Homo sapiens: one gene and its partners. The protein of the gene in region 6 purifies or fractionates together with the protein of the main gene of each other region. This does not show direct contact. Each region holds a gene or a part of one and is shown on either strand. Other genes may lie near its edges.

The links.
Region 1: the proteins of FGL2 (region 6) and MTFR1 purify together in Homo sapiens (affinity purification with mass spectrometry; 3 studies listed by BioGRID and IntAct, with this or other methods). This does not show direct contact.
Region 2: the proteins of FGL2 (region 6) and PCNT purify together in Homo sapiens (affinity purification with mass spectrometry; 3 studies listed by BioGRID and IntAct, with this or other methods). This does not show direct contact.
Region 3: the proteins of FGL2 (region 6) and SPATA2 purify together in Homo sapiens (affinity purification with mass spectrometry; 3 studies listed by BioGRID and IntAct, with this or other methods). This does not show direct contact.
Region 4: the proteins of FGL2 (region 6) and CYLD purify together in Homo sapiens (affinity purification with mass spectrometry; 3 studies listed by BioGRID and IntAct, with this or other methods). This does not show direct contact.
Region 5: the proteins of FGL2 (region 6) and GNPDA1 purify together in Homo sapiens (affinity purification with mass spectrometry; 3 studies listed by BioGRID and IntAct, with this or other methods). This does not show direct contact.
Region 7: the proteins of FGL2 (region 6) and ITPRID2 purify together in Homo sapiens (affinity purification with mass spectrometry; 3 studies listed by BioGRID and IntAct, with this or other methods). This does not show direct contact.

What each region holds. Positions count from the first base shown.
Region 1 is NC_000008.11:65,679,234-65,682,733, forward strand, and holds part of MTFR1 (mitochondrial fission regulator 1 isoform 1 precursor), read left to right. Parts: intron 1-2,810; exon of another isoform or gene 2,811-2,847; intron 2,848-3,119; coding exon 3,120-3,218; intron 3,219-3,500. UniProt on the Homo sapiens protein: May play a role in mitochondrial aerobic respiration. May also regulate mitochondrial organization and fission.
Region 2 is NC_000021.9:46,424,610-46,429,123, reverse strand, and holds part of PCNT (pericentrin), read right to left. Parts: intron 3,294-4,514; coding exon 3,153-3,293; intron 1,503-3,152; coding exon 1,329-1,502; intron 730-1,328; coding exon 534-729; intron 1-533. UniProt on the Homo sapiens protein: Integral component of the filamentous matrix of the centrosome involved in the initial establishment of organized microtubule arrays in both mitosis and meiosis. Plays a role, together with DISC1, in the microtubule network formation.
Region 3 is NC_000020.11:49,902,223-49,905,875, forward strand, and holds the end of SPATA2 (spermatogenesis-associated protein 2), read right to left. Parts: coding exon 3,397-3,653; 3' UTR 1,169-3,396; downstream 1-1,168.
Region 4 is NC_000016.10:50,782,964-50,787,477, reverse strand, and holds part of CYLD (ubiquitin carboxyl-terminal hydrolase CYLD), read right to left. Parts: intron 3,620-4,514; exon of another isoform or gene 3,289-3,619; intron 3,150-3,288; coding exon 3,027-3,149; intron 640-3,026; coding exon of another isoform or gene 624-639; coding exon 532-623; intron 1-531. UniProt on the Homo sapiens protein: Deubiquitinase that specifically cleaves 'Lys-63'- and linear 'Met-1'-linked polyubiquitin chains and is involved in NF-kappa-B activation and TNF-alpha-induced necroptosis.
Region 5 is NC_000005.10:142,002,665-142,007,178, forward strand, and holds part of GNPDA1 (glucosamine-6-phosphate deaminase 1), read right to left. Parts: intron 3,663-4,514; coding exon 3,480-3,662; intron 2,453-3,479; coding exon 2,268-2,452; intron 599-2,267; coding exon 424-598; intron 1-423. UniProt on the Homo sapiens protein: Catalyzes the reversible conversion of alpha-D-glucosamine 6-phosphate (GlcN-6P) into beta-D-fructose 6-phosphate (Fru-6P) and ammonium ion, a regulatory reaction step in de novo uridine diphosphate-N-acetyl-alpha-D-glucosamine (UDP-GlcNAc) biosynthesis via hexosamine pathway.
Region 6 is NC_000007.14:77,192,501-77,197,465, forward strand, and holds the end of FGL2 (fibroleukin precursor), read right to left. Parts: intron 4,486-4,965; coding exon 3,779-4,485; 3' UTR 869-3,778; downstream 1-868. UniProt on the Homo sapiens protein: May play a role in physiologic lymphocyte functions at mucosal sites.
Region 7 is NC_000002.12:181,918,692-181,923,205, reverse strand, and holds part of ITPRID2 (protein ITPRID2), read right to left. Parts: intron 4,452-4,514; coding exon 4,324-4,451; intron 3,911-4,323; coding exon 3,760-3,910; intron 2,610-3,759; coding exon 2,544-2,609; intron 1,259-2,543; coding exon 794-1,258; intron 1-793.

The DNA of each region.
Region 1 (3,500 bases), on a different chromosome or scaffold from region 6:
TCAAGAAGAGAAATGACTGAATGGTATACTTACTTTTGCCCTATGGATTTATTTGTAAAAGAACAGGATCTATTAAAATGTATAAGGTAGGGCCATGTGCGGTGGTGCACGCCTGTAATCCTAGGAGTTTGGGAGGCTAAGACAGGTGGATCACTTGAGGTCAAGAGTTCGGGACCAGCCTGGCCAACATGGTGAAACCCCGTCTCTACTAAAAATACAAAAAAATTAGCCAGGCATGGTGGCATTCACTTGTAATCCCAGCTACAGTAATCTCAGCTACTCAAGAGGCTGAAGCAGGAGAATCACTTGAACCTGGAGGGGGCAGAGGTTGCAGGGAGCCGAGATTGCTCCACTTCACTCCAGCCTGGGCGAAAGAGTGAAACTCCATCTCAAAAATAAATACATAATAGTAATAAGGTAAAAAGTTTGCTTAAATACTGTCTTAGAATTATTTGCCCATGTTTGTTCTTTTTTTGGTGGGTAGTCTGATGTTGACATTGTAGAACTTGCGAGGCTTCCCATTTTTCTCTAGTCAGATGTTTTCCTTTCCCTTAGTCCTCACGTTATTAAGACTACTTGTGTCATAATCCTGTATGATTATTGATGTGAATGATGTTTTCTTCTAAGCTTCAGAGTAACTTTGCTTCTTAACATTCTTTGTATACTATTCATATTTTAATATTTTTATCTTCCTTTCTACTTACCAGTTTTCTAATCTTTGCCATCCTTTTTATTTACATTTCCGAAGCAAGAGCTATCATTTTTGTTGGTTATTGGAGTCAGTATAGGTTATAAGTACTTTTTGGAACTCTTCTAGGTAAGATTCAGTGAAACTTTGGAAAATGTGTGATAAAAATTATATGAAAGCTATGGCAGGTGCCAGGGGTATTATATATCCTTCTATGATTTCCACTTTGTTGGTTTTTTTCTCAGGGGTTGGGGGGCGGGGGGACATGGTCTCACTCTGTTGCTTAGGCTGGAGTGCAGTGGTGCAATCCTAACTCACTGCAGCCTGGAACTCCTGGGCTCAAGGGACCTTCCTGCTTTAGACTCTCCTGTAGCTAGGATGACAGCATGCATCACCACCCCTGGCTAAGTTTCCAATTTTTTGTAGAGATGGCGGTCTCACAAAAAGACCCCAGGCTGGTCTCAAACTTCTGGCCACAAATGATCCTCCTACCTCAGCCTCCCAAAGCACTGAGATTACAGATGTTAGCTACTGTGCCCAGCCCTGAACCCCACACTGACTCATACTGTTATCCTTGAATTGGACTTGATTGCTAAAATTTAAGAAATCAGATAGTTTCTGTGCTCATTTTATAAGTTGTATATGCTTTTATCTAAGGGTCTAGTTTGAGTTAGGTTTTGGAGCCTCCACTGTTTACAGTGAACCGTTGTTTGGTTATGCTGTTTGTTTATATTGGGGTAATTTCATTCTTTAAAGTAGAATGATCACGGATTGATCTTAAAAAAGTGGTAGTATCCATTTCTCCAGAATTCATACTCAGCTGATTTGGTTCTTTTTAGTCTTTAGAATATAATTGTTTTTTGAGTTTTTATTTTGTTTTATTTTTGAGACAAGGTCTCGCTTTGTCACCCAGGCTGGAGTGCAGTGGTGCCATCTTGGCTCACTGCAACCTCCGCTTCCTGGGTTCAAGCAGTTCTCTTTTTTTTTTTTTTTTTTTTTTTTGAGACGGAGTCTCGCTCTGTCGCCCAGGCCGGACTGCGGACTGCAGTGGCGCAATCTCGGCTCACTGCAAGCTCCGCCTCCCGGGTTCACGCCATTCTCCTGCCTCAGCCTCCCGAGTAGCTGGGACTACAGGCGCCCGCCACCGTGCCCGGCTAATTTTTTGTATTTTTAGTAGAGACGGGGTTTCACCTTGTTAGCCAGGATGGTCTCGATCTCCTGACCTCATGATCCACCCGCCTCGGCCTCCCAAAGTGCTGGGATTACAGGCGTGAGCCACCGCGCCCGGCCTGGGTTCAAGCAGTTCTCATGCCTCAGCCTCCCAAGTAGCTGGGATTACAGGTGTGCACCACCATGCCTGGCTAATTTTTGTATTTTTAGTAGAGATGGGGTTTTGCCATGTTGGCCAGGCTGGTCTTGAACTCCTGGCCTCAGGTGATCCGCCCATTTTGGTGTCCCAAAGTGCTGGGATTACAGGCAGGAGCCGCCGCACCTGGCCTTACATAACTGAATGTTAAAGTTTGATGAATTAAGTATAATAGTCATATAATTCTTACTCTTTTCTTTTAAAATTGCTTTTAATAGCATACTACCTTTCTTTACTTATTCTGTCCAGGCTTTCAAGTGTAGCACTCAAAACAGATGAATAGTTTTTCCTTTAAAGAGGGGTCATATACTTGGGGAGAAGTTTCAAGGTACAATTTATAATGATTTACCTAACATTCAACACATGTGCTTTTTGTTGTTTTTGTTTTTTTTTTTTTTTTGCTTTGAGGGTTTGTTTTTGTCTTTAAGCATAGCATAATGTCCTGTTTTATTATGATTTCATCTGAGAAATTCTGCTCAGATGAAATTTCTTACCTTTCCTTTGGGGAGCAGGCCTCCCAAGAGCAATATGCCTGGATTTCAGCCTTTGCTCACCCTTGGCCAAGCATTCTTGTGCAGCAAACAACATGGAGCACCCTGCATGGTACACATTCAGATTCTGAACTTTGTACTAATTTGGGATTGTTTTGAAAAGTGTGTAACAGCAAAAGTAACATACATTTAATAAAAACTATGTATATCAAAATTCTAAAACTAAAAATATAGCAGAAGAGATAAAATAGTGTTTCTGTTGCAGAATAGTATGAAAACCTGATGAAAATAAAATTTTTACTGTAAGTATAGTATTTAAAAATTACTGGCTAGTTTATATTTTTATATAATACTTTACATTAAACTTTATTGAATTAATAATATCTATCTCTCTATCTATCTATATATTCTTTATTTTTGGATTGAGAAACATTAGCTTATTTGCCATAACATTTAGAGCATTCTGATCCTGTAATTAATGTGTTAGTATGTCATACAAATAATTGTCTAATGCTTTGTCTTAACAGTTCTGTACATCTTGTAATTAAGCTTTCGGTTTTTCCTACTTCCTCAGGTACTTTGGTCTAGGAAGCCATATGGTTCGTCTCGAAGTATCGTAAGGAAAATTGGTACTAATTTGTCTCTGATTCAGTGTCCAAGAGTTCAGTTTCAGGTATTATATTTTATATATTTTAAGTATTTTATTAATATGTACATTAGAAATATAAATAGGCAAGATGGTTTTAAAAGCATTTTGTTTTTGAGACTTTTCACCAATTGATGCCACTATCAATACAATAGAAGAGGATTAAAAACCACAGTAAAGCCTTTCTAATTTTAGTTTCTCTGTGACGTGATTGAGATTTTTAAGATATTTATCCTTCTTAAGGATGCATATGTGAAGATTTAGGAGCATATAATAAGCTAAGCAGTTGTTAATTCCTAGGTGACCTCA
Region 2 (4,514 bases), on a different chromosome or scaffold from region 6:
AGGAACAGAGGGCACTTGCCCAAGCTGACCAAGGGCGCCTGACCCCACATGCGATGGTACGAGACCAGCTCCTGCCCCCAAAACTAAGAGCAGGGAATGGCATCTGCCCACACAGCTGACGGCACAGCACGTGAGAGAACACGGGCAAGAAACAAAAAATCGTTACTTACCCACAGATGACCTGAGCATCTACATAAAAACTCCCGAAGAAGCTAAATTAAATGTAGAAACCTACGAGACATTCCTGAACTCTAGCATGAGCTCCCAAGAATCTGCCAGCACTCAGAGCCCAACCCAGGCCCCTCTTGCCCACATCAGGCCCAAGAGTGAGGCCTCCGTGCCAGCCCCACCCAGCGCTGCCTGTCTCCAGGGTCCTTTCTGCTCAGTCCTATCAGCTGACAACCATGGCAACACTCAGGGGCTTGACTAGATGATGCCCTGTCACCACCCTCTGCTCCCAAGGCCACACAGGTGAGTGTCGGGCGGGCAGGTGCAGAGGCCGGGCCCCAGGCAGTGTAGACAGTGACACCCACCCTGCCTGCGCAGCTGGTGCTCCTGCTGGCTCCCGCGCGCCTCTGCGCTTGTCAGCGCCGTGCGCAAGTGCTGCAGCTTCTCCTGGTTCTGCAGGTGCGTCATGCGCAGCTGGGCACGCAGCGCCTGGATCTCGGACAGCAGGCTGCTCCGGTCCGGCAAGCGAAGATGCTCCAGGGACTTTTCCTGCAGGTCTCCCTGGGGGCACAATGGGACAAGCAGCCTGAGCATTGGGCAGCCACCCCATGCCCCGGCCTTCCCTGCTGCCCGCCCTCAAAACCAGCTCCGCCGGGACAAGCCTGCTGAGTCTGGGATGGGTGCACAGTATCTGCTGGGCCTCAGCTCTGGGGCCTGCAGGCGTCAGGGCTGGGCTGCACTACCCTGCGTGAGGCCTGCAAGCCAGTTACTCTCAACACTAGGTTTCCTCGTGTATGCTGGCAGGAACAGGATTTCCAGTGTCCCCACGGCACCAACGCCACCCAGCCCTGCACACAGAGCACCTCTCAACCTAGGAGGGGCTACTTGGAATGGAGAACGTTTCTTTAGCCACCTATCTCAGAAAAGAGTGAGGCCTGAGGGTGCATCTCGAGCACACCTGTCCTGTTACAGCTGCAGGTGGAAAAGTGCAGCATCCTGCATGGACTGAGCGTCAACACCTGGGTAAGTGACAGCCACATTCCAGCGGTCGAGAGAAACACACAAACCGAAATTCACACACAAAACAGTCTGTGTCACCCTCTCTGCCAGGGCTGGACCCCTGGGGCAAACTGAGGCCTGGTGGCAGAGCTGACACTCACCTGCTCACGGATGATCTTCTCCAGCCTTTCGAGCAGGGAGCTGTGACCCCCCAGATCTGAGCCACTGAGTCGGGGCTGCAGCTCAACCCCCTGCATCTCCTGCTCTTTTTCAAAGGCCTCTTGCACAACCTGCAGAAGGTCCCCTCTCCAATCGGGGCACGCGGTGGGCACTTCCTAAAGGAAGAAGGAAGAAACGTGGCGTCCTCACAAATGCACCTGCATCCTTGTGCCCTAAAGTTCGCAGTGTGACTGCGTTTGGAGATGGGGCCTGCGGGAGGTGATTCAGGGTAAATGAGGCCTCTTAAGAAGAGGAAGAGACACCAGAGCTCACTCGCTGTCTCCATCATATGAGGACACAGCACGGAGACGCTGTCCGCAAACCAGGAAGGGCGCCTACACCAGAATCCAACCCTGTGGGCACCCTGATGCCACAACAGGTGAAATCAATGTCTGCTGTTTAAGCCCCCTGGTCTGGGGTGTTCTGTTACGGCAGCTGAGCAGACTGACAGCCGTTCAAACAGAAATGACCCTGACAGAAGAGAAGACACACACTGCCCAGGGCCATTCAAGGCACGAGAAGCAAAGGCTGCCATCATGAGCACAGAAGAGACTGAAAAAGACGATAAAGTAAGGTCAGGAAAATGTCAGCAAAGCTCCTTCCCTCTTTTCCTGCTGCTGTGCCTTCAAGGCCCAGGGCCTGGAGGGGACCTAAGGCTGCAAGGGGCTACCCGCTGGTCCCCAGGGGCAGCGTGCAGCACCAATGAGCCTCCTGAATGCCAGCCAGGCTGCCGCTCGCACACAACCAGGGCCTGCTGGAGGGGCGAGCGGAGGCGGGTGGGGCTGACCCTCCCACCGGCTCTCCATGGCACCAGCACACCCTGTGCGTTCCAGGCACAGGGAGAAAGCCCTTCCCTCCCTCACAAAGCTTTGATCCCAGTCAGAGGCAGGCACAGGGGCAGGACAGGGTGGGCACGGAGATGGGAGGGAGCGTGATGGGAGTTGGCACCCACTCCACAACCTCCACAAGCCCTGGTGATGGAAGCAGACAGGCAGGGAGATGGGGAGGACTTGGGGAAAAGTGGGGTGCGGGGTCGACAGCACAGAGGTGAGGCCCTGAGGTCCAGTTGCTGGGGCTTGGGGTGTGGAGGGGGAGGTAGGAGAGACCCAAGGGGAGGAATGAGGCCGGAGGGCAAGTCACCCGAGTGGCAGGAGGAGAGGCCCTGGGGGACAAGTGCTGGAATGGGCCGAGTCCGCAGGGCCACATGGCCAGGAGGGACCACTCTCAGCCTCCCCGCAGGCTCACACAGGGCACAGGCCTGAAAGCCCTGAGCCCTTCTGCCCCCCACACACCTCCACGTCCCGCAGGGAACCTGCCCCGAGAGCCTGCGCTGGCTGTGGGAGATGGGAAGGCCTCCCCAGGGTTCTTGGACCTCAGTCTTTTTGGCCGTGCTAAAAAAAATCCTAGGCCAGGCACGGTGGCTCATGCCTGTAATCCCAGCACTTTGGGAGGCTGAGGCGGGTGGATCACAAGGTCTGGAGTTCAAGACCAGCCTAGCTAAGATGGTGAAAGCCCGTCTCTACTAAAAATACAAAAATTAGCTGGGCATGGTGGCATGCACCTGTAATCCCAGCTACTCGGGAGGCTGAGGCAGAGAACTGCTTGACCCGGGGTGGTGGAGGTTGCAGTGAGCCGAGTCTCAAAAAAAAAAAAAAAAAAAAAAAAAAAGAAAGAAATCCTAGTGTCCACGTGGCCCTAAGGACGCGGCCATTACCACAAGCTCCTTAAATCCTTTGGAAAAGAAGTGTGTGAAGGGCAAAATAAACCTGCGTCTTTCCCCCATGGAGCGAGATGTCCTGTATCTCGTCTTCCTTCCGGGGTGGGTGTGGCTCGCCGCTTGGGGGTGCAAGGCCTTCTGACAGCGCCAGGATCTGGTGGCTCTCGTCACGCACCATCTGCAGTAAAGCCTGTGGCGGGAAAGCGCGTCAGAAGGGAGTTGCCTGCCACCCCACACAGCCACGCTCTACACCACCTGCGGCCCCGAGCTGCCGCCAGGACTCTGTGAAGGGCGGGCAGCTGTGGAGAGGGAGGGCACCGCCTCGGCTTCGTACAGGCGGCACCCACTTCTCAAGCTACAAGGTTTTCAAGCCCACCTCTCCCGACCTTCAGAGAGACAACACGGAAGCCAGGCTTGGAGTGAATTTCTCTATAAGCCACTCCAAAGATGGCCCCGCCACTTCCTCCACTCCACCTGCTCCCTGAGGGGGACACCGTCCCCCGCCTAAGCCTGGACAAAGCTCAGGGCAGGGCTTTAGGCCAATGTCCACAGCGAGATCACAAACATATCACACACTCCCTGCCCACCTGGGACGCTACGAGAAGGCCACACGATGGCCACCCAGGAGGCCTCTGTGCGTGGTCCGGCTGAGGCCAGTGCCGACCACCAGCGTGGGGTGAAGCTGCCTGTGCTGGGCACGGGGAGCAGAGAAAACCATCCCCAGCAGGCCCTGCCCACAGGTCTGTGAACACGAGGCGGCTGCTTTATCCCACCGATTACGCAGCAGCTGGTGTCCGGACACACACTTGACTGTCTCGCCAGAGAGGCTGAGGGGTAAGCAGACGGCCCTATGGAGAAGCTGGTGTCACGACCAGCCTAGAGCCCAGAGCCCAGAGGCTCAGCGCGGTCACCACCACATGAGCACACACCCAAGCACAGGACACGTCTGCATAAAAACCTGAAGAGAAAAATAATCTAATAAAGTCCAAAAAGAGGGAAATGCAAAATGAGGCAATGATGAAGCCTACGACGGGTGTGACTGACTGAAAATAGGCTTTCCTGTAATTTTAACGATATGCCAAAAAAGGTCAAATATTAACACTAAAGTGTGAAACCAAATTGCACACTATGTTCATCTCTAACAACTGAAAACACTTTTACTTTAAACATAACGTATGTGGCACAGGATGGATGCAAACTGAGGTCTGCGGCAGAGCAGGGTGGGGTTGAGGGGAGCGGGGTGGTGCGGGGAGGAGCGGAGACGGGGGGAGCAAGGCCGTGGCTGGGGGAGCAGGGTTGGGGGGGGCGCAGTGGGAGCAGGGCCGGGGGAGCAGGGCGGCGGGCAGGCCCTGAAGCTGCTTGGCCCCTCTCTTCCAGCTGCAGAGGACAGGCCATTTCCTTCTTTTTAATA
Region 3 (3,653 bases), on a different chromosome or scaffold from region 6:
GGGATTACAGGCGTGAGCCACCGCACCCGGCCCTTAAATTGATTTTTAAAGCAAACCTATCACTGTTACAATGGAAAAGTAGTATGGCCTGCCCTAGAAGGTAACAAAACCTGGCTAAGAGCCTGCCACACGCTGTGTCTGATGCCAGGTTTCTCTGTTAAAGACAAGGTAGCATCGAACTGACTCCCTCCTCAAGACAGTTAAATGGATGGAAAAAAATTCAAATGGAATTAACTTTTAAAAAACATCTTCCAATGTTATTAATGCCTCTTTGTCTCTACTAACAAGCATTTCTCCTGGATGATGCAGTCCCCTCTTTGGGAAACATCTGAACTCTGTGTACCGCCATTTCCCCATATGTAAGATGGAGATGGTAACAGTGCCTATTTAATAGGATGACTGAAGCTAGTAAGTAAGATCATGCACATAGTCTCAGGATACAAATGCCTGGCGGGAGGATCACTCGAGCCTAGGAGATTGAGACCAGCCTGGGCAATATAGTGAGACCCCACCTCTACAAAAAATTAAAATTAGCCAGACATAGTGGTGCCCACCTGTAGCTACTTGGGAGGCTGAGGTGGGAGGATCACTCAAGTCCAAGAGGTCCAGGCTACAGCTAGCCATGATCACACAACCGTACTCCAGACTGGGAAGTAACAGAGCCCGTCTTAAACTAAAAAAAAAAAACATGGCCGGGCGTAGTGGATCACACCTATAATCCCAGCACTTTGGGAGGCCGAGGCAGGCAGATCACGAGGACAGGAGATCGAGACCATCCTGGCTAATACAGTGAAATCCCGTCTCTACTAAAAATAACGAAAAATTAGCCAGGTGTGGTAGTCCCAGCTACTTGGGAGGCTGAGGCAGGAGAATGGCGTGAACCCAAGAGGCGGAACTTGCAGTGAGCTGACATAGCGCCACTGTGCTCCAGCCTGGGCGACAGAGCAAGACTCCGTCTCGAAAAAAAAAAAAATTTTTTTTACAAAAAATTAAAAAAATAAAAAGTGCCAGGCTCGCAGTATAGCACTCAAATGCTATTTGTCAGTTTCATGGAAGAGAAAATTTAAGTCTTGTCATTAAAAAACTAAATACAGCTTAAGGAAAAATAAACTCCCAAGTAACCAAACTTCAAAGCAGGGCCAGGGGACATAAAACCCCAAACACTTCATTTAACAATGGAAGACACTTTATTATTATTATTTTTAATCATCTCTCAACATTTCAACTCTTGGTAGAAATCAAATGTAAAACATCTGCATTTTTAAATTAGCATGTATTTAACTATCTCAATCACAGCAACCTCATCCAGTAAGATGCACACCTGGGAGCAGGGCTGTAGTATTTCGTATTCCAGTCTGTGACCACAGTGCGTCCGTGATGACAGGTACACTGGACTTTCCCTCCTAGGATGTGTTAGTCATTCCTGCTTTTGTCCATAGGGTAAGTTACGTGGCATCACGGTTGGTTAGAAAGAGTTAGTTACTGTAATGCTGGCGCAATCTGGAAATGGAAAACTAGAAAACTAGAGCTCTCAGGAGTGGGCCAGGCATTGCCGATTCTGAAATGTGAAAAGGAAGAACATCAAAGATGAATGCCCTGCTAGGCTGGTCTTAGTAATAAAGTTGGTTGAAATTCAGCTTAATATACACACTGTACATCTACATGTGATCTACCAGATAGATATATATATATATATATATATATATATATATATATATATATATATATATTAAAAAGAGAGCCATAGAAGATTTGGAAAACCTTAAAATCACTCAACTGAGTTGGAAGAACATCAGCAAATTCACAGTGGCCTCAGGATTCAGCCAGACTTAAACTTGCTCAAGAGCTGAATAACTTTCTCCCAGAAAAGCCCACTGCATATAAATCCCTTAACATTGTGTACATCACAAACAGTTATGGCTAAAATATAGTTAGTTCACAAGGAAGCGGCTTTATTTTCAAACTCTTGCCCCACTCCTGCTCTTGTACCCCCACAAGGAAAATCCAGGGGTTGGTAATTCACATGAGAAGCTGAAGGGGCCTTCAGGCTTGGAAGCGCTTAGGCTTAGCTGAGCATCTGAGGAGCCGTCTCTCTGATGGGCACATGCCGACTCCTGCCCACTTTTAGTGCAAAAAGATTGCAAATGTTGCAGATGAGTCCTGGAAACTGGTGAAGAGAAGAGGATTGAGATGGAGGGGCAGTAGGAATCCCAAATGATTTTCCTTCTGAAACGAGACTCAAGAAGTGTGAAGTGCAAGGTTCCTGCTCAGCAAGCTATAGGTCCGACAGGTGAGGTCCCTGAATTGTCATAGGTTAGCAGTCTGCAGACACACAGACCTCGACACCCGCGCTCACCCCCTAAGTGCACACTGGAGGTAGGTGTATAGATAGTTACTGCAGGGAAGACAGTGGCTCTCCACCAGCTCAAGAAAAGGAGGCTTCATGTCTGTTCCTCCCTGCCCCAAACTCTCCTCTCCCCTCGGGCCATAGTGAGTGGAGGATACAACACGAATGGGCGCGAGGCCCTCCCTTGGAAGACTAAAGAACCCAGGGCATTTAATAAATAGCTACATAATTCATTTTTTTAACCACGTTGAAACACACAGCAAGTTGAATATTTATTTAAAAATAAATCTCAAAAATATCTATTGACAGTACAGTAAGAGGGGCATGTGCAAACAACAGAAAGGGGGAAGTCAGTCCTGCTGTGGGAAGCCCACACATCAGTGTGTTGGAGCAAAGTTCACGAAGGCCATGGGCTGACTGAGCTGTGGTGTACGAAATGACATTCAGCTAATACTGGACTCGGTTCACCTTTGACACCTGGAGAGGTGGGGAAGCCAGGGGGTGGGGAGTCCAGCTGGGGATCCTTGTGTTTAGGAAGGGGGCGGCCAAGGGATGAGCCTTTGGGAGAGGCCCCGTGTGGCAGGAGGGCTCATTTCACAAGCCAACAGGCCTCTAGCTCGCCGCTCCAGGTGGATGTTTGGTGACCTGAAGGGCCCTTCCCAGTCCAAGTTGGCTTTGCAATGGGAGGGGTAGGTGCAGCGAGGGTCCCAGAGACAGAAATCCTCTTTAAAGGAAAAAACAAAACAACAAAACAAAACAAAACAAAACCCCAAAAAAAGAACCAACTGAACAGGGAGTGGAGAGATTAGCAAAATGAATCTGAACGGAAGTGCCACCTTCTCCCTTGTCAGACAACAAAGCAGCCATTGGTTGAGATATCTGAGTCGCTAAGTGAACTCCCACGTGGACACAGCCAGCCCACGATCTCTGCCACCTACATGGTCAAGTGCAGGCCTCCGCCTCTGAGATCAATGCGTTAGTACTTCTTCACCGTGAAACCCGAAAGGTCGGTTGATGTAGCCCTTGGAGCTGGAAGGGGCGAGGCCGGTCTATCTGTACACGAGATGGGAGAGCTGGGTGGACTTGTAGTTCAGCTGGTTGTTGGGCATGAACTTGTGCAGCTCACTCTTTTTGTAGCAGGGGTCATAATGGTAAGCGCTGAGGCAGGCGTCACATGAGACTTTTGAACACTGGGTGCAGGTGTTGGTGGCGCCTGGGCGGTTGCAGAAGCCACAGCGGGAAGTGGGCGTGGTGGAGGGCTTGGATTTGGAGTGAAGGTGCGGGAGGCGGTCGAGGCCCTGAGTCT
Region 4 (4,514 bases), on a different chromosome or scaffold from region 6:
AAGTATGCTCTGTTTTTTCCTGCAAGCCTCTGAACATTACAGCTGTTTACAGTATGCTGCTGACAAATTCAAAGTCAGGTGGTGAATCTTTGAGTAAGCCCATTAGCTAGGAAGAGATTATAACACTGTTCCCTGACTATAAACTTAATCCTAGTTAGCAGCTTTCTAACTCCCTTTTACAACAGGGAAGACTCAGTGGGAAAATGTAGAAAACCCAATGCAACTCTGCACCACAAGAGAGAAACAACTGAGAATATCATTGCTAGGTGGAAAGGAAAGGACTTTTTATTTAAGCATTTAATATACTAGAACCAGCCAGCTTCTTAAAGGAGTTCATTATTCCACATCATCAATCACTTTTAGAAGAGAGGAAGAATTTACAAAAAGAGGAGCTAACCATATATCACATAAAAAGAAATTTCTAATTTAAAAGAAAACCCCCCAACTACACAGACACACATTTCAGCTAATACTTTGACATGTGAATATGCTCTTCAGTTATTTTTAACGCATATAAGTTAAGATGGTCACCTTTTTCTTCAGAGGTAAATCCTGATGCAGCCTCCACCTTTTCAAGTATTTTCCTCAGTTTCATAATTTTTGTGGCACACACATATCCATATCTAAGTTAGTAAAAAACTATTAATTGATATTGGCATGTATTAAATTATATAACACATCTTAATCACATATTTCTTTTTTTCTTTTTTTTTTTTGAGATAGAGTCTCACTCTATCACTCAGGCTGGAGTGTGCAGTGGCCCGATCTCAGCTCACTGCAACCTCCGCCTTCCAGGCTCAAGAGATTCTCATGCCTCAGCCACCAAAGTAGCTGGAATTACAGGCGTGCACCACCACATCCAGCTAATTTTTGTATTTTTAGTAGAAACAGGGTTTCACCATGTTGGCCAGGCTGCTCTTGAACTCCTGGCCTCAAGTGATCCGCCCACCTCGGCCTCCCAAAGTGCTGGGATTACAGGTGTGCGCCACCACACCTGGCCAACACATTTCTTATACAACTCCAGTATGTCATAAATCAATAGGTTAGACAATTATTTTTGAAGAAAACAATGATAAGCTTCTTCTTGAAGTTTGCAAAATTAAAGATCTAGAACCAGAATTATCCTAGACACTATTATATGCTCTACAAGTAACTGTCATACACTAAGATAAAAAATTTTTAGGTTTGCTGTGACTGATTTTTTAAATAATATTTGCTTGGGAAATTAAAGCATTTACTTTATAAAGCAGAATATACAATTTTGAGAGAGAATATCCTTTTAATACTGAAGTGTGAAACAGCCACCAAGGGAAATGGGAAAGGGAATTTATAAGAAACTGAAAATCTAAAATCTGCAATCAAACCAATTGGCATAATGATGACATTTTCTCTCTTCTTTGTCTGAATGCAAGACACATTCAATCAGTTTAATATCACTTTAAATTTGTAATTCTAAAAATGGCTTCAGAGGAGAACTTGGCGGCTACCATAAGTTTACTAAGGACAAGTCAGAACTAGCTAATTTTATATCCACTTTTTATACTATTCATTCACTCATTAGTTTCCTGCAACCAATACAGACTGAGAATCTACCACTTACATAGTAACGTAACCTGTCAGCCACTGGGAATACAAAATGAGTAAGGTTAAAAAGACAGGGTCTCTGAAGAAAAGCAGAGATTTCAGCACCAAATAAAACCAGTCAGCTATATACAGATATGAATGCTACAGACACAGGGAATCCTGATCACAACAGGGCATCTGACCAGTTTCTTACCGTGGACAGGGTAAGAAAGTGTGATTAACTATGATTCTTAACTGGCTGAACAATAGGATCCAAAGAATGTTTATTCTTCCTCTCTTCTAGGAAGGAGGTGTTAACATGCCTTAGAGTTTCGGGTTTGACCTGTCTTGTTCCAGTATCAATTACTTGGGGGAAAAAAATCGTATGTTTAAAAATTTGCATAAGACAAAATAGTTGATGTGAAAATCAAGATTCACAATTATCTTAAAGAGTAAGATCATTAGAGAAATCATTACAGAATTTAAAGAAAGCAAAAGATATAAGTGAGGAAATTTATTCTCTTATAATTTACTTTCCTAGTCATGTGATATAGCAGATAATTTGGAATCCTCATTGTATTTGAGTATTCTGCTTTTTTGGTTCAAATTTGATATCAAACTATTTTTTACTTTAATTGATAAATAAGAACAGTATATAAAAGGATTCAAATTTATCTTAATATGGACTTTAAATAAATCACTTTCTCTCTATATTCCTGAATGAACAAATTTGTTTTATGATCTATGGTCCTAATTCTTCATAGTTTAAATTTTATAATGTGACATTATCACATATCACTACTACCACTTATTCAAAGTCTTTACTAGATATCTCCTGTCACTTGTGCTTGTACCATTACAAATTGCTTCCTGTGGCCATAAAAAGACATATTTATAATTCCTAAAGTAGGAAATGGAAAAAGAATCACCTTTTTAAGGCAGGTGGAAAGAGGCCAAATATATTCCTTTAACCAAAAAATATGGTACTAAAATACATCTCATCTGTTGCTAGTCCAAAGTATTAAACACTAGCTATTCTATAAAGAATTTCCCTTTCTCCTTTTCTTTCAGATTTAAGAAGCTAGACTACACCAATTTAACTAATAAGCATGATTACTTGTAGCAGAAGTGTTGGAATAAACTATTTCAAAAGATAAGAATCCTAAGTATTATGTATTAGCTTTCCTAAACATACTGCAATTGCTAAATTATAGTTTACTCTAGCAAAATAGGTTAAATCATTTCATGGAATATGCTATGTTCTACACCTTGGCCACATTTAAGAAATTAAATAAGCAAAAAAGTACAAGGACCAAAGGTTTAAAAACGTAATATTTTACCATAAGAACTAATTTTCACCCATCTCTTATTACATGAAGACAAGGTATAAATTAATTACTATACCAGAAAACAGCAAATAGAACACCATGTAAAGGCAAAATAGCAATTTGTTTTCTACTTACATTCTCAGAGGATTAACAATTTCTGTCCTCAGTAGCTCTTGGGTTTCACTATAATATTCTACATCGTTCTTTTCTTTGGGTCTAAGTAACACAGTGTCCAGAACAGAACTAAAAGCAAATAAGCTGCAAAAGAAAAAGGATAATTTTCTTCATGCTGTAAACATATTTTTCAAGAAACAGATTTTTAACAGAATTAGAAGAGGAAAATAAGTAAAGTCTGGAGAACAAATAACATAACAATTTGTGTTTTTCATTAACACAGGTACCAGGACCCCTGTGAAGATACCCATGGTTCAATCATCAGGACCTACAGATCCTTCCATGTTAAGGACAACACCAATAATACTGAGAAAGCAAACGGCAGATTGGCAGTGTTAAAGGATAACAACGTGCCAACAGAATATTAAGAAAGAAAACTTCTTTGCAAAAGTTGATAGAGAGACTACAAATATCAGTCAAATTACAAACAGACAACAGAGGACAGCATTTGGAAACGACTTCCCGAGGCAAGCACTATTCAGTGCCCCACTTCCCTCTCCCCATGCCCCTTTGCAAAGATCTATTACATTAATAAATTTCTTTAAATGCTAAAATCACTTATGAGTGACTAACAGGCCAGGTGCGGTGGCTCATGCCTGCAATCCCAGAACTTTGGGAGGCCGAGACGGGTGAATCACCTGAGGTCAGGAGTTTGAGACCAGCCTGACCAATATGGTGAAACCCCGTCTCTACTAAAAATACAAAAATTAGCCAGGCATGATGGAGTGCACCTGAAGTCCCAGCTACTTGGGAGGCTGAGATAGGAGAATCGCTTGAACCCGGGAGGTGGAGGTTCCAGTGAGCCGAGATCACGTCACTGCATTCCAGCCTGGGCGACACAGCGAGACTCCTTCTCAAAAAAATAAACGAGTGACAGCAGTAACTTGCTGTTATCAAAGAAAAAGAAAATTTAGCTAATATAGATTTTTATCAGGAAATCTAAAGAATATTATATCAATGCTACAAGGTTTGTTTTTGTCAAAGTATTCTGCAAATAAAATGGCCGCCACTTTATTCTTCTTCCTACTTTAAAAATGTTAACATCCCATATTAACTTCCTAATTCTTATCATATGGCTACAGAACTGGCAGGCTACTCTCAATTTAGCCCAGTCTACAATCCTCAGAGCCTAAAGATTCTTGGTTCAATTTCCAGAGCTTAAAGATCCTTGCAATGTTAAGGCTGGGCGTGGTGGCTCATGCCCGTAATCCCAAGCACTTTGGGAGGCCAAGGCGGGTAGATCATTTGAGGTGAGACGTTCGAGACCAGCCTGGCCAACGTGGTGAAACCCCCGTCTCTACTGAAAATACAAAAAAGAAAGTTAGCCAGAAGTGGTGGTTCACACCTGTAATCCCAGCTACTCAGGAGGCTGAGTCAAGAGAATCGCTTGAACCTGGGAGGCAGAGGTTGCAATGAGCCCAGATTGTGCCGCTGCATTCCAGCCTGGGG
Region 5 (4,514 bases), on a different chromosome or scaffold from region 6:
AATCACTTAAGCCCGGGAGGTGGAGGTTGCAGTGAGCTGAGATCACACCACTGCACTCCAGCCTGAGCGACAGAGTGAGACCCTGTCTCAAAAAGAAAGAAAGTAAATAAAAGAAAGGAATCGCTTGTTTAAGATTTGAAAAGAGAAAACCTGAGGCTTAATGGCACTGTGAGGTCACCACATAGTCCTTGGACCACATTGCGTTTTCTTTCCTCCTCCTCAGAGCAAACAGATCTCCAGAAATGGATCTTTGCAGTCACAGGCAGAAGAGAAATGACTGTGTAGTGTGATGCAGTTGGGTTTGATATTTCTTAAGATTACAGTTGTCAATTAAAATGACCAGAGGATGAAAGCTGGATCTACTCCTTACTCCTAGCACACCCTAAGCTTGACCACCTCCTCCTGGACCCACACCTCCCTCACCTTTGAAATACTTGACAGTCTTCACTTTCAGCTCCAAGGTGGCATCCTCGTCACACACAAACACGGTGCGGGGATGCTGCTGGAAGGCAGACACGGTCCACATGTGGTTCACTCCCTCCTCGATGGCCTTGTACAGAGCAAATGCCTTGTGAGCACCTGTGATAAGGATCATCACCTGGGGATCAGAAAACAAGTCTGTGATGGAGGGGAGCATTCCAGACACCCTAAACAGTTGTAAGGATGATTGTTTTTCATATCACATTGTAAGTGGTTACCATGCAACATACTTTTGCTCAGTGCTCCCTGTGCTTTATCACACAAATAACCCGAGGCAGGCAGCATCATTATCTCCATCTTATAAGAAAACAGAGCCCCAGGGGGTTAAATAACTTGCCCAGGGTCATTTATGACCCCAAAGTTCATGTTCTTGACTACCACGTGACAGTGCCTCCAGGTATCTTTGATGATGACTATGAAGGTGCCCTGTAAACAGACATGCCATGCCCAGGCCTGCTATCCCATCAGCTGGGTGACTCTACACAAGCACAGTTTGTGAAAGAGGGCTCCCAACCTGCACCACCAGCAAGGGCACTTTGCAAGCAATGGTGGGAGTTATCTGTGGGGCCTCTAAGGCTGAATCCCAGAAAGGTTGCCCCATTATCTGGTCACTTTCAGTTCACAGCATTAAACCTATGAACTAATGTGACTTGGGGTGATGGTTTTTGTTAATATATAATAAAACAAAGGCACAGTCTCCACTTAACAGTTAAAATATCGAGAATGTAAGTGATCTTAAAGAACTCAGCTCTATTCAAGGGCAGGAAAAGAGAAAAAAACTCAGTTCTGTAGATTTCCTTTCATTTTAATTCACATGTGCCACAGAGTTGTGAACAGGATTTACTGTTCCTTTCTTAAAAGATTAGAATGCAGAAGCAGAGAGGGAATGTGACTATTTCTTCCGGACCCCTCAGCAACCCAGAACTCTTTAGAAAAGATAATTTCCTGATTTCCAGCCCCAGGTCCTTTCCCAGATCAAGATGCCCTCATGATAAAGACGGCCCTAAACCTGTTTCCAAGCTGCAGAGCTAAAAACAGCGAGTAAACACCCCCACCCCACGTACTGATTGAAGATTACCCAACAGAAATCTGGGTGCCATCACTCATTTCACAAAAGTTCACTTTAAACAGGGAAGTTTTCACTGATTTAGATGCTTGTTTATTGGCTTGGGCAAAGAAATGTAAATCTAACATGTCTATACACGTCAGAAAGGAAGAGAAAATGCTTCTAAAGTTCTAATGAAAATAAGGAAATTGGAACCACAAAAAATTCACATTCAAATGATAGCCAATTTTTTAGGGGAAAAGCTAAATTCAGTTTAAAACACTTATATTTTAATCATACTTCACCACATTTATTAATCTCTGAGCACGGGGCTAGAAGCACAAGCATCCTTGGTGTCCCAACAGTGACCTCTACCAACTACAAGGAACAAGGGAACCCCTCTCTCCATACCTGGTCAGGTACAAATATTCCAACATTAGCGATGCTGGCCTCCTCTCTGCCTGTGAAAAGCATGAAAGGGGCCTGAGGCCAGAGAGCCTGCTGTCTCAGGCAGTCAGCCAAAGGCACCAAAAACGTGCTCAAGGGATTCACCTCACACTGGGAATAATGATGTCTTCCAAAGACGCAAGAGGAACAGTGAGTAACAGGGTCAGCAGGGATTTTAGCCTTATTTACCATGCCTTCATCTTTAATAAGAATGTAGGTGGTACCAGTATAGTTAAGATTAACAAGAGAAAGACAAGTCCACCAGCGCAAGCTGGTGGGGCCCTTATGCCCTTACCTCTCTAGCATCCATGACAGTGCCCACCCCCACCGTCAAGGCCATGGTGGGCACCTTGGTGAGTTCTCCATCGAAGAACCTAGCATTGGCCAGGATGGTATCCATGGCCAGCGTCTTCACACGGGTCCTGGACACCAGACTGGAGCCTGGCTCGTTGAAGGCAATGTGTCCATCAGGGCCGATGCCTATAGGGAGAGAGCCCGTGCAGCCCTGTCAGTCCCAGGGATCCAAGATTTCAAGAATGGACAATCTCTCCTTCCCTAACTAGGGTCTGAAGAAAAATCATTGAAAGCTGTGTCACCTTTCTCATTTGCAGCCCTGGGCAGGTACACCTTAAACATGTGATCTGTCCCCCTCCCTACCATTTCTTTCTCTTTGCCATACTGTCTCAGAGGAGACCCTCCCCATCATGTCTATCTGAGGCACACACAGACATTGTTAACTTGCTATCACCCTCAAAAAGCTGAGGAGGAAACACTCCAAACAGCTTCTGCCTCCCCAGATTGTCAGAAAAGTGGACCTTCTCTGTCTCTTCTGCCTGTAGTTAGAGGGTCCTGCTGCTGGGATAGAGGTGCAGTGAACAAAACACCCAGAGAACCTGGACAGGGGCTGCCAAGGTTCTAAAATCTCAGAGGATGAGAGGTCCTGCCCCCCTCCTCCCCACCTTGAAGTATAGAAGAGTGATCTCTAGAGCAATAAAAGGCAGTTCAATGTTACCCCTCATGGGTAACTCCAGAGGTGGCGATAGATGGATACACAGAAGGGCAGCCCAGAGGACCCGAGCACAAATCCAAGAAGCACACACTTGCTCCCACCTGTGAACCTTGAGTGAGTCACCTAACTTCTCTGGGGTTCAACTGGCTATCTACAGGGGCTGTGTGGAGCCTTCCGGAACTACATGAGTCCATGATGTTAAATGTTTAGATAAGTTCCAGGACTGATCCATAAAACCTTAAGACTGGGGAGTAGACAGAATCTCAGAGTCCAAACCCAAACCTCTCAGTTTACAGACAAGGCATCAAACTGCAGAAAGAGATCTCCAAGATAACATAGTTCCTGAGTAACAGAGCCAGGCAGGGCCCATTTCTCCCGCCTCTGTCTCTACGGTCACTAGCACACCCAGAAGAAGCTGTCTGCAGACAGGCATTGTGTCTTGTCCTCCTTCCCACGGGTCTGGCCCTGGACATGTGTGCTGCAGAGTGTCAAGCTCACCTCCAACAAATAGCTCGATCCCACCTGCAGCCTTGATCTTCTCTTCAAAGGCATCACATTCTGCCTGTAGGTCGACTGCATTCCCATCCAGAATGTGGGTGTTTTCTGGGTGGATGTCAATGTGCTTGAAGAAGTTGTTCCACATGAAGGAGTGGTAACTCTCCGGGTGGTCTCGAGGAAGGCCTGTGGGGCCGTGAGACACTCGGTTATGCCTAGGCCAAGCCAAAGCCCCTCTCCTAAGAAGGATGCCAGGACACCATGCTGACCTACAGAGACACTCCCAGGGGTCTGCCCATCTGGGAGCCTTAGGCACCAGCCCTCTGACCCCTAGCCACTCGGCACAGGCTGAGCCAGTATCCATAAGTGTCCACCCACCCAGTACCACCATCTGTGGCCACAGGGCTTGGCCAGAGTAACTGCACACCAAGGGCCTGGGAAATCCCCACATTCTGATCTGATCTGCTTTTCATAAGGCAATGACCATAGGTTAGAGGCTGGGGACACTCTGGCCACCTGGGGTAGGGCTGAACTCATCTTAGAAAGCAAGCAAGCACACCCCTCACCCTGTGCCTCTCAACCCACCATCCACTCCCAGTTCTACCCCACTCAGCCTGAATAAATCCCAGCTTGAACACCAGGTGGTTAGAGAGAACTATCTTAGGGCTTCCCCAGATCAACTTTTTTTTTTTTGGCCAGGAAAAAAAAATAATGTTTAATGTTAAGCATTAAGAATATGTAAAATCAGCCTTAAAAAGGAAGGAAATTTTGACACACACTACAACAATGGATGAACCTTGTGGACTTTATGCTAGGTGTAAGAAGCCAGTCAAAAAGACAAATACTTTATGATTCCAGTTATATACTCTAGTTTGATTCTAGAGTAGTCAAATTCATAGAAACAGACAGTAAAATGGTGGTTTCCGTGGCTGGTGAAGTGGGAAATGAGAAGTTGTTGTTTCACGGGTATAGAGCCTGAGTCTTACAAGATGAAAAGAGTTCTGGAAATTGGTTGCACAACAATGTGAATGCACTTAA
Region 6 (4,965 bases):
AAGGCAATGAAAACATTAGAAAGCGTAGTTTGTTTGTGTACAACAAGGCGTTTAGTATGGCAGAAGTATAAGTAGTGGTAAAAATCATTTCATGAAGGGACTTATTTGCCAGATTTTATCTTGTAGAAAATAAGGCATTGTTGGCCGGGCACGGTGGCTAATGCCTGTAATCCCAGCACTTTGCGAGGCCTAGGCGGGTGGATCACGAGGTCAGGAGATCGAGACCATCCTGGCTAACATGGTGAAACCCCGTCTCTACTAAAAATACAAAAATTAGCTGGGCGAGGTGGCAGGCGTCTGTAGTCCCAGCTACTCAGGAGGCTGAGAGAGGAGAATGGCGTGAACCCAGGAGGCAGAGGTTGCAGTGAGCCGAGATCTCGCCATTGCACTCCAGCCTGGGCGACAGAGTGAGACTCCGTCTCTAAAAAAAATAAAATAAAATAATAAAAAAAAAGAAAAGAAGGCGTTGTTGAAAGTTTTTTAAGCAGGACAATAACATGATCAGAATTGTACTTTTGAACAATCCCCCTGGTAGGGATGAAAGTTGGACTGGAATAGACTGAAACCAGAGGTACAGACTATTCAGATGCGTTTGTGTTGTCCTAAGGAGATGAAGAGGGCTAACCAGAGCAGCAACACTAATAACGGAAAAAGAGGAGAGGAAGTTGAATGCCACAAAATGAAACTGAAACTTTTGTATTTCAAATGTTTCAACAGTATTCTAGAGGGAAGTAAGATAATGGTGTTCCTCTATTTGCCTCTGACTTCTTGTTAATGAAATAGTACTCATTAAAGTCTTCAGAGTCACAGATATTGTATAGCTGAGGTAAGCATTTTACAACTTTTCAGACACAAGTAAGTACATAAATATTATTTTACAACCAACAATATTTAATATTTCCACATTGAAGAATAGATGTGATAATTAAATCTTTTATAAGGTTTTAAAAAGACATGAAACATAAACCTAATTATACATAAAAGAAAAGAATTTTAAACAAGAGCTTATTGTGATGACATTACTCATAACTTTTACCTTTAAAACCTTTTCTTGGGTAGCTATTCAAAAGTAAAGACCACAAGTTTTGTTGCCCAGATTTCTTATGTTTTGTATATTTAAGCTCTTTATTTATTGAACAGATGTGTCATTAATTCATTTGGAGCATTACTATTATCAGTAAAATTTGATTTTTTTTTCCCCTCAGTCATAGGTAAATCAGCTCCACCTGGAATTTCTAAGGACCCAGTTTTAGTCAATATTTTCAAGTAATCATGACCTCAGAAATAGTCTTAATTAAGATAACAAATATTAGCCATCAAAATGGAACCAAGACAAGATTCTAATGTTTGTAAACAGTCAATCCATATTTATGAATATTAGCATATATTGGTGAATAGTTAAGGCAAAAGGTTCTAGCAGATGTAATCTATTTCCATCAACATGTTAAATGTTATAAAAGTCTAGAATTATTGGTAACATGAAATGATTCCAAAATGGAATTTCTGTGTTACAGAATTTACTAGAAAAGTGCTGTGAAAGTATAATGAAAAATAAAGTGATCCCTTGAAATAATGTGGATAGAACAAGCTTTTGAATATTTACATGGATTAATGAATTATTTGCCAAATTCTCCTGAAGTTATACCTAGTTCCCATTAAATTAATGGACACCGTGTATATGAGCATATACCTTTCTTTAGAACTATGTTTTGTGATAAGTCCATTTTTACTCACAGGAATTTACTTAAACTTGTACATATATTAATTATATATACTAAATGACAATGACCTTATCTGAAACAAATACATTGTATAATATCAAAACGTTTTTAGTCTTTTTTAAAAAGTAAAAAGTAAAAAACAACGTCAGTTACATCATTTACATTTGGTATCCCACCTAATAGAGACACAGCTTTTGAAATCTACAATATTTTACATTTTGGTCATCATTTAATGCTATTTGCATTTCTCTTTAACATTTTAATAGTATTTGTGATATATCATGTTTAACTGAAAGCTTTGGGTTATATATTTTAAAGGAATATCTTACTTTTTGACTAAATAGTTCTGTAAGGGCCTAATATTTGAAAAATTAGCTTGTTACCTGAAGCAACTATCCTCCTTAATCATTTTAAAATAATGGGTAAAGATGCATCTTTGTAAATATATTTTGAAAACTTGGTTAGTGTATTAGAAACAGACACCAGAAATTAAAAAAATTATTTCTAGGACTGGCATACACTACAGTGAATTACTTCAAATGTTACTCTAGAGCATTTTTAAAAATACGCAGAATACTGCTGTTCTCTCTGAGATGATCCCTTTTTACGATGATGAAATTAAACACATTTAAAAAGTCTTTTAAATATTATATATAGCATTCCAGAATTGATGAATTATAAAAATTACAGATACTTCTGTTTGGGTAAAAATCTATCTTTTAGTTTCTGATAGTAAAATAAGCAATCTACCAGCCAGGGTTGAAATATATAGTATTTTAACTACTGTTCTATATATTTCAAAATTCATGTTTTCTATCTGTCCTAGAGAAACTTAGCCTTCTATGAAGTGAATCACTTAATGATATTATTGCTTTGGAGATAAAATTGGCCTCAGAGTATGATAGCCTGTAAGTAAATGCTTCATTACCCACATATCCCTACCCACCCCCCCCAAAAAAACCTACCAGTAGTCTAGTACAGTAGTGAGCAATCTTAAATTAAAAGCTATTGTTCACACAGAGCAGAGGAAGATAATTTTCATGTTAAAGCAGTTTTCAACATCAAACATCTAAGGAGTTATAAACTATAAATGAATTACCTTTAAACCCTGGTCTTCACAGTTACATTGCTTTCTGAATGCTTTTTGGGGTGACATTATGCTACCACATTTTTAAACGGTTTAAATGACAAGTATTTTATATTTCATGAATGATAAATGAACAAGTTTAATTATATAGATATTAGTTCCCTTAGTCTGGGAACCAAAATGCTGTAGGGTTGTTCTGTTGCAAAGTAAATGATATAGATTAAGTTTGTCTCAGAATGAAGATTACCCAAATAATTATAGCCTGAAAAGAGTGATATACCTTCAGATGTGCTTAAATCATGGCCCAAATACAGATTACTTTGTGTAGAATCCAGCCTACTGAATAAATTTTATTATTTTTTTGTTTGAGACAGAGTTTTCTCTGTCACCCATGCTGGAGTGCAGTGGCTCAGTCTTGGCTCACTGCAACCTCTTCCTCTCAGGTTCAAGCGATTCTCCTGCCTCAGCCTCCCAAGTAGCTAGGATTACAGGCATGTACCACCATGCCCGGCTAATTTTTGTATTTTTAATAGAGACAGCGTTTCACATGTTTGGCCAGGCTGGTCTCAAACTCCTGACCTCAAGTGATCTGCCTGCCTTGACATTCCAAAGTGCTGGGATTACAGGCGTGAGCTACCACACCCAGCCAACAATTATTTTTTAAATACAGCAAGTAATACAAGCAATAGAAAAAGTTTCAATAGAAATTAAAAGAATTGTAAATCTAATGTATAATTCTCAATATTGCTAATTGCTTGCAAGTGTTCATTGGATAACAGCATAACAACAAAGGACTCCTTTAAAATGCATTGTTTTTCAGCTTTATTTCAAATGCTGTGTAGCATAAGAACCTAGCCGTCAGACATCATTTTTTAGCTATGAAAAATATGAAACAAGGCATATTCTAAAGTGCTGAAGGAATTAATTGCCCTATTAGATAACGAATACCTGGAGGAATGAACAGAGTGATTTATGGCTTAAAGTGCTTGGGTCTGATCATCATCTTAGCCTCTTTGAAGGAGGACTTGTAGCCACCAGGGTGTGCCTCACTTACACCAGGCCAGGTACCCCAGAAAATCCCATTACGGACACCTCTGTATTTTTGGTGATAATATTTGCCATTTAAGTTTGCAGAAAGACATGCATCAAACCACCAGCCTGAACTGTAGTACAGCCCACAGTTCCCAGAAGGATATCGATCATTGTCTTTATCTGGAGTGGTGAAAAACTTCAGATCGTGGTTGTAATGTTTGTTGAAACGTAATGCATCTCCAGCTGTGCCATTATAGTTACCAACGTGTAAACGATATTTGAGAAACTCATTAGCCACATAAAACTGATCATACAAGGCATATAGTTCGACACCATTAAAGTCTTCAAGATCTATTCTCAGAATCATTTCCTTACTCTTGGTCAGAAGATGAATTTTATCGTTCCCCAGCCAAAATTCCCTTCTGAGGTTTCCAAAGCCTGCTTTGTAGTCTTGCCATGTTCTGGTGAAGTTGGTGCTCCCATCGAGACGTGCCTGCAGCACTGTCCAGCCTCCCCCCATGGTCTCCATGTCACAGTAAACTTCAAAGCTACTATTTTTGGGATCAGGTGTAACTCTGTAGGTCTCACTGCTTCTTTTGCCTATTGCGTAGTAGTCAGAGCAATCTTTATATATTAGATGTTGAACTGAAGGGGAAATAAAAGGAAGGCATTGGATCTTGTTAATAGAAACCATGCATCTGAAGAATTCTTTATATGTACAAAAGCAGTTTGATAATTGAATCAATGGCAGTAATGAAACTTTACTAAACTTACTTGAACCTGTTTAGCAAATGCTTAAGGCCTCACAAGAAGAACCTAATGTTATAAAGCAGAAAGGACCTCTAATATACTCTTGGTTGGTAGTAATAATGACAGCATCAACAGCAAACGACAATAAGAAAATAATAAAAGTACAGTTTTAATAATTTAGTATTATGTAGTGAGGCCTACCTATACGTTCTAGGCATGCTGCCAGACTGGGTAACATTTTCACACTGAATCTGAACATTGACCTTATGATGTAGGCGTTACTGCCAGTCTGCATGTGAGGATATTTAGGCATAAAGATCAGTGGCTTGCCCACCTTCACCTGAGCTTTAAGTGGCAGAGCCAGGACACTAACTC
Region 7 (4,514 bases), on a different chromosome or scaffold from region 6:
TGATCTCAGTGCAAAAAACATTTATTTTACTAATTTTCTCAACTTTTGAACTTTCACTACTAATCATATGTAATTTCCTTTTGCAGTTCTTTTGGTCATCCATAACTATGGTAATTCTTCAAGTTCTTATGCTGCTATCACCTAGGGCAAACCCTCTTTTCTTCGTATATTTTGATTTTTGAATAAAAAACACCAAACCAAATCAATCTATTTATACTTATTAAAATCACAAAATCATTTTCTCCTATCAATTGTAATTATAAAATGCAGTTTCTTTTTTTTTTGAGATGGAGTCTTGCTCTGCTGCCCAGGCTGGAGTGCAATGGCATGATCTTGGCTCACTGCAACCTCCGCCTCCCAGGTTCAAGCAATTCTCCTACCCCAGCCTCCCGAGTAGCTGGGACTACAGGCACATGCCACCACGTCCAGCTATAAAATGCAGTTTTTAATCCTCGAAGAGATCTAAACTGTAAATCCTCATTTTGTAGATGTGGAAACAAGAGGTCCAAAGAGTACGTCATGTTTATTTTGAGTCCTTCACATATCTTTTTCACCATACTGAACACAGAGAATTGTAATTATTTCACATTAGAGTATGAAATTTGCAGAAATGCCATTACAAATATATCTTAATTGACACAAACTTGATCAACAGGAAAGCTAATTTAAAAGCTCTGTGAAAATTATTGAATACAGTGAATCAAAAGAACATTCTGTAAATAATTAATATTCAGACAAAATCTCCTCTAACATATACCTCCAAATAAATGAATGAAACACAGATTTTACCCACCTCCCGTATGACTTGCTGCAACTCATCTTGCTCCACATTTTTATGCATTTCCTCAGCAGCTGGCATTGATGGGAGTTTTCCATGCCCTTCTTCCACTTCAGATTTAGGTCCTACAACTTCTGGGGCTCCTTCAGCTGCATCAACTTCCTCAGAACTTTCCAAATCTGGAGGTGTCTGCACAGAGCCTGTTCTAGAAGGAGCTGTTGGCGTTAGAGCCACCGATGCTCGGAACACTTTCTTCCTTGCCACTAATGGGGTTTTGGATTTGCCCACTGAGGCAGTAGAAGGTACTCCAGTTCTTCTGTTAGCATGAGAGGGACCAGAACATACAGAAGATGATTCTGATGTTGCTTGGGAAAAAACAGATTCTGAGCTTTCTCCAGGAGGAATTTCAAATCCCATTTCTCCAAGTCCCAGGCCCAATTCAGACTTCAGGTATGACTGCTCCTGCATCAGTTCAGTGACCTGGAGATCATAAAAAAATGTTATTCTTCTCTCTTGGAATTAAGATTGGTAGCTAAAAAGGTTAAAGTCCTGGTTGTCATTATTGCCTAAAATCATGTAATTTGTAAAGACATAAATCTATTCCATTAATTTAATAACTACTCAATTTTATTTGCAAAAATGGTAAGTAAAATTTAAATTCCTATTGAGATGAAGCAACAAAACAGGTAAACAGAATACATAGTAGGATGAAATTTTACTTGTTACCACCAAAGTGTCCAAATCACTTGTAAGGAAGAGTAACTAGTGAAAAATAGTTACTCATAGTGCTTTTGCCCCCAAATGAACCAATCTGTCTAACACAATAAAGACAGATTTCTGTTAAAAACGTGGTCATGTTACAGCTCTAACTACCTAAAGAACCAGGATCAAACTGTGAAAGCACATGTCTCCTGAAATGTAAATTAAAAATCAATTTTCTTTTTTTTTTTGAGATGGAGTCTCACTCTGTCACCCAGGCTGGAGTGCAATGGCTTGATCTCGGCTCACTGCAACCTCCGCCTCCCGGGTTCAAGCAAGTCTCCTGCCTCAGCCTCCCAAGTAGCTGGGATTACAGATGCCTGCCACCATGCCCAGCTAATTTTTGTATTTTTAGTAGAGATGCGGTTTCACCATGTTGGTCAGGCTGGTCTTCAACTCCTGACCTCAGGTGATCCACTTGCCTCAGCCTCCCAAAATGCTGGGATTACAGGCATGAGCCACCACACCTGGCTTATTATTTTTTAAAGACAGGGTCTTGCTCTGTCACCCAGGCTGGAGTGCAGTGGCACAATCATAGCTCACTGTAGCCTTGAGCTCCTGGCCTCAAGCAATCCTCCCGCCTCAGCCTCCTGAGTAACTGGGACTACAGGCACATATCACCATGCCTGGCTGATTTTTAAATTTTCTGTAGAGAAAGGGTCTCATTTTGTTGACTAGGCTGGTCTCAAACTCCTGGCTTGAAGCAATCCTTCCACCTCAACCATTTAAATAAAGTGCTGGGATTACAGGCATGAGCCACTGTACATGTTTTTATGGTGCATTACCTCCTTTAGTCAGAAAGATAAATCACTATTGCAATTCAGGTGGCTTTCTAGTGGCTTCAGACAGCAATGGACTTTCAAAGGTGAAAGTCACTTCCAATCAACAATAATTTATCAAATTATGTATTTAAAATAAACATATATTTCATCTAAACTAGGGAAACTATGTGTCTGAAATGTTGTATCATTCCCTTCCCCAGTGATTTAAGAGGAAAGAAGCTTACTGGTTCCATTACATTCAATGGAGAAGGGCATGACAAGTTATCAGCGCTTCTACTGCCACACATTCCCTGAAAAGGTAAGAACAATATATATATGTATATGTGTGTGTATATATACATACATGCATATATAATTATAATGTACATATATATTTTTTCAAATCACAAGACTTTTATAATAAAATTAATTGGCTAATTAGTGCCTGGAAGCATCCCTTTATGTCACAAAGGTTACTCTCAAGTGTCACAGATCCCATAAAATGCATTATTGTGAGTTAAAACTGATACAATATGCAAAAAGGATGTTCTAGTTCTCCCGTCACCAACATACACTTCTCAGAATGATAAATCAAAACCATGTTGAAAAGTACATTCATTAGCAATACAGAACATCCTTAGTCTATGCTATACATATATGTGTTTATACACCATTGTTTATTCTACTTCATTTATAGTATATACACACATAATTGTATGTGTGTATATTCATCCATTTCTTTTTAACAAAATCAAATACATTGTTAAGGTAACAAAGAATAATTCACTATTTCAGCATTTCAAAGCAACATATTCTACAACTTCAAAGATATTTGCAAAAATAATACAACTGTTGAAGTTCAAATGTTATGGAAAGAAACATTAGAAGTATGAAAAGTGGTACAAAAACATGTTTCTTTTTATTCTCTTGGATATATATCTATATATTTAGGAAAATACATATATGTATGTGTATGTATATATATGTATGAAAATATACAGGTATCATTTGATTCCTTTAAAAACAAATGGAAAAGAATCCAAAATAAAGAAAAAGTTTAAAAGGAACACTTTTTTATTTAAAGGCATGAAAGAAAAAAAAACAGCAAAATATGCATCTGTGTTCTCTGCAGTTACATGCAACAATTAAAATTTACATTAGTCATATGTTAATTCACTAGCATTTTTCCTTTAAAAACCCTCAACTTTCGTATAAGCCCTTATTCTTTCCTGTTATTAAAATTTATCATTAAAAATTTTCAACATATTTCTAAATATACTATTTATGACAATTATTACAAATTGTACATTCAACTGATTTGTGGGAAAGCTCCTTAAACAGTATGCATGCTTTTAATACCATTAAAATAAATGACTTGAAATGAAGGCACACGTCCTAAATTATTGGAACATTATAAATAAACCTTTGGTGAAAACTCCGACCACCCTCCAGGTAGCGTACCATGAGTGCGGAGGAGCGGAAGGGTGAAGGCATGCGCACAGCACGAAGCTGCTCCTCCAGGCCCAGCAGGCGCTCCTCCAGCTGCAGTTCCAGGTCCTGAAGTTCCATTCGGACTGAATTTCTCAAACCCTGGAGCTGATCAACTTCAAACCTATTGGTATGGTGAAGGGCACAAAATTGGAAAAATGCAGTTTGGAGATTCCTAATCACAAATCTTTCAACAACTACTATATGCTAACAGAAGGCATGGAAATCTCAGGTTCTAGAAATTAGTACAATATCAACTACAATAGGTGTATCCACAAGGACATTAGTCTTTCTTCCCCTATCCTCTCACAAATATCTCAAACACGGGAAAGCAGGTTACCACTACCCTTAGGATATTGAAGGCATACAAGTTTACTTAGTAAAACACTATCTATGACTAATCTTATCTACACTGGTTCACAAAACAGATACAAGGTACACAGCAGTAGAATCAAAACCTAATTTTAAAAAATATAAGTTGAGAAGACTTTGAATGAAAAGCTTTTTGAGGTGTGCTAAGACAAAATGAACTTTTACCTCTCCTCCTCAGTCATATGATGATAAACCATGGTTTGCTGACGCAGCATTGCCAATTCTAAATCCATCATTTGTGTTCTAAACAAATTCAGGCTCCGCCTCATTACCTGGAGCTCCTGAAAAGTATTCTAGAATGCAATATAACAAAATTACACTTCTAAATTCTACAAATTATTTTGGAACACAAAGAT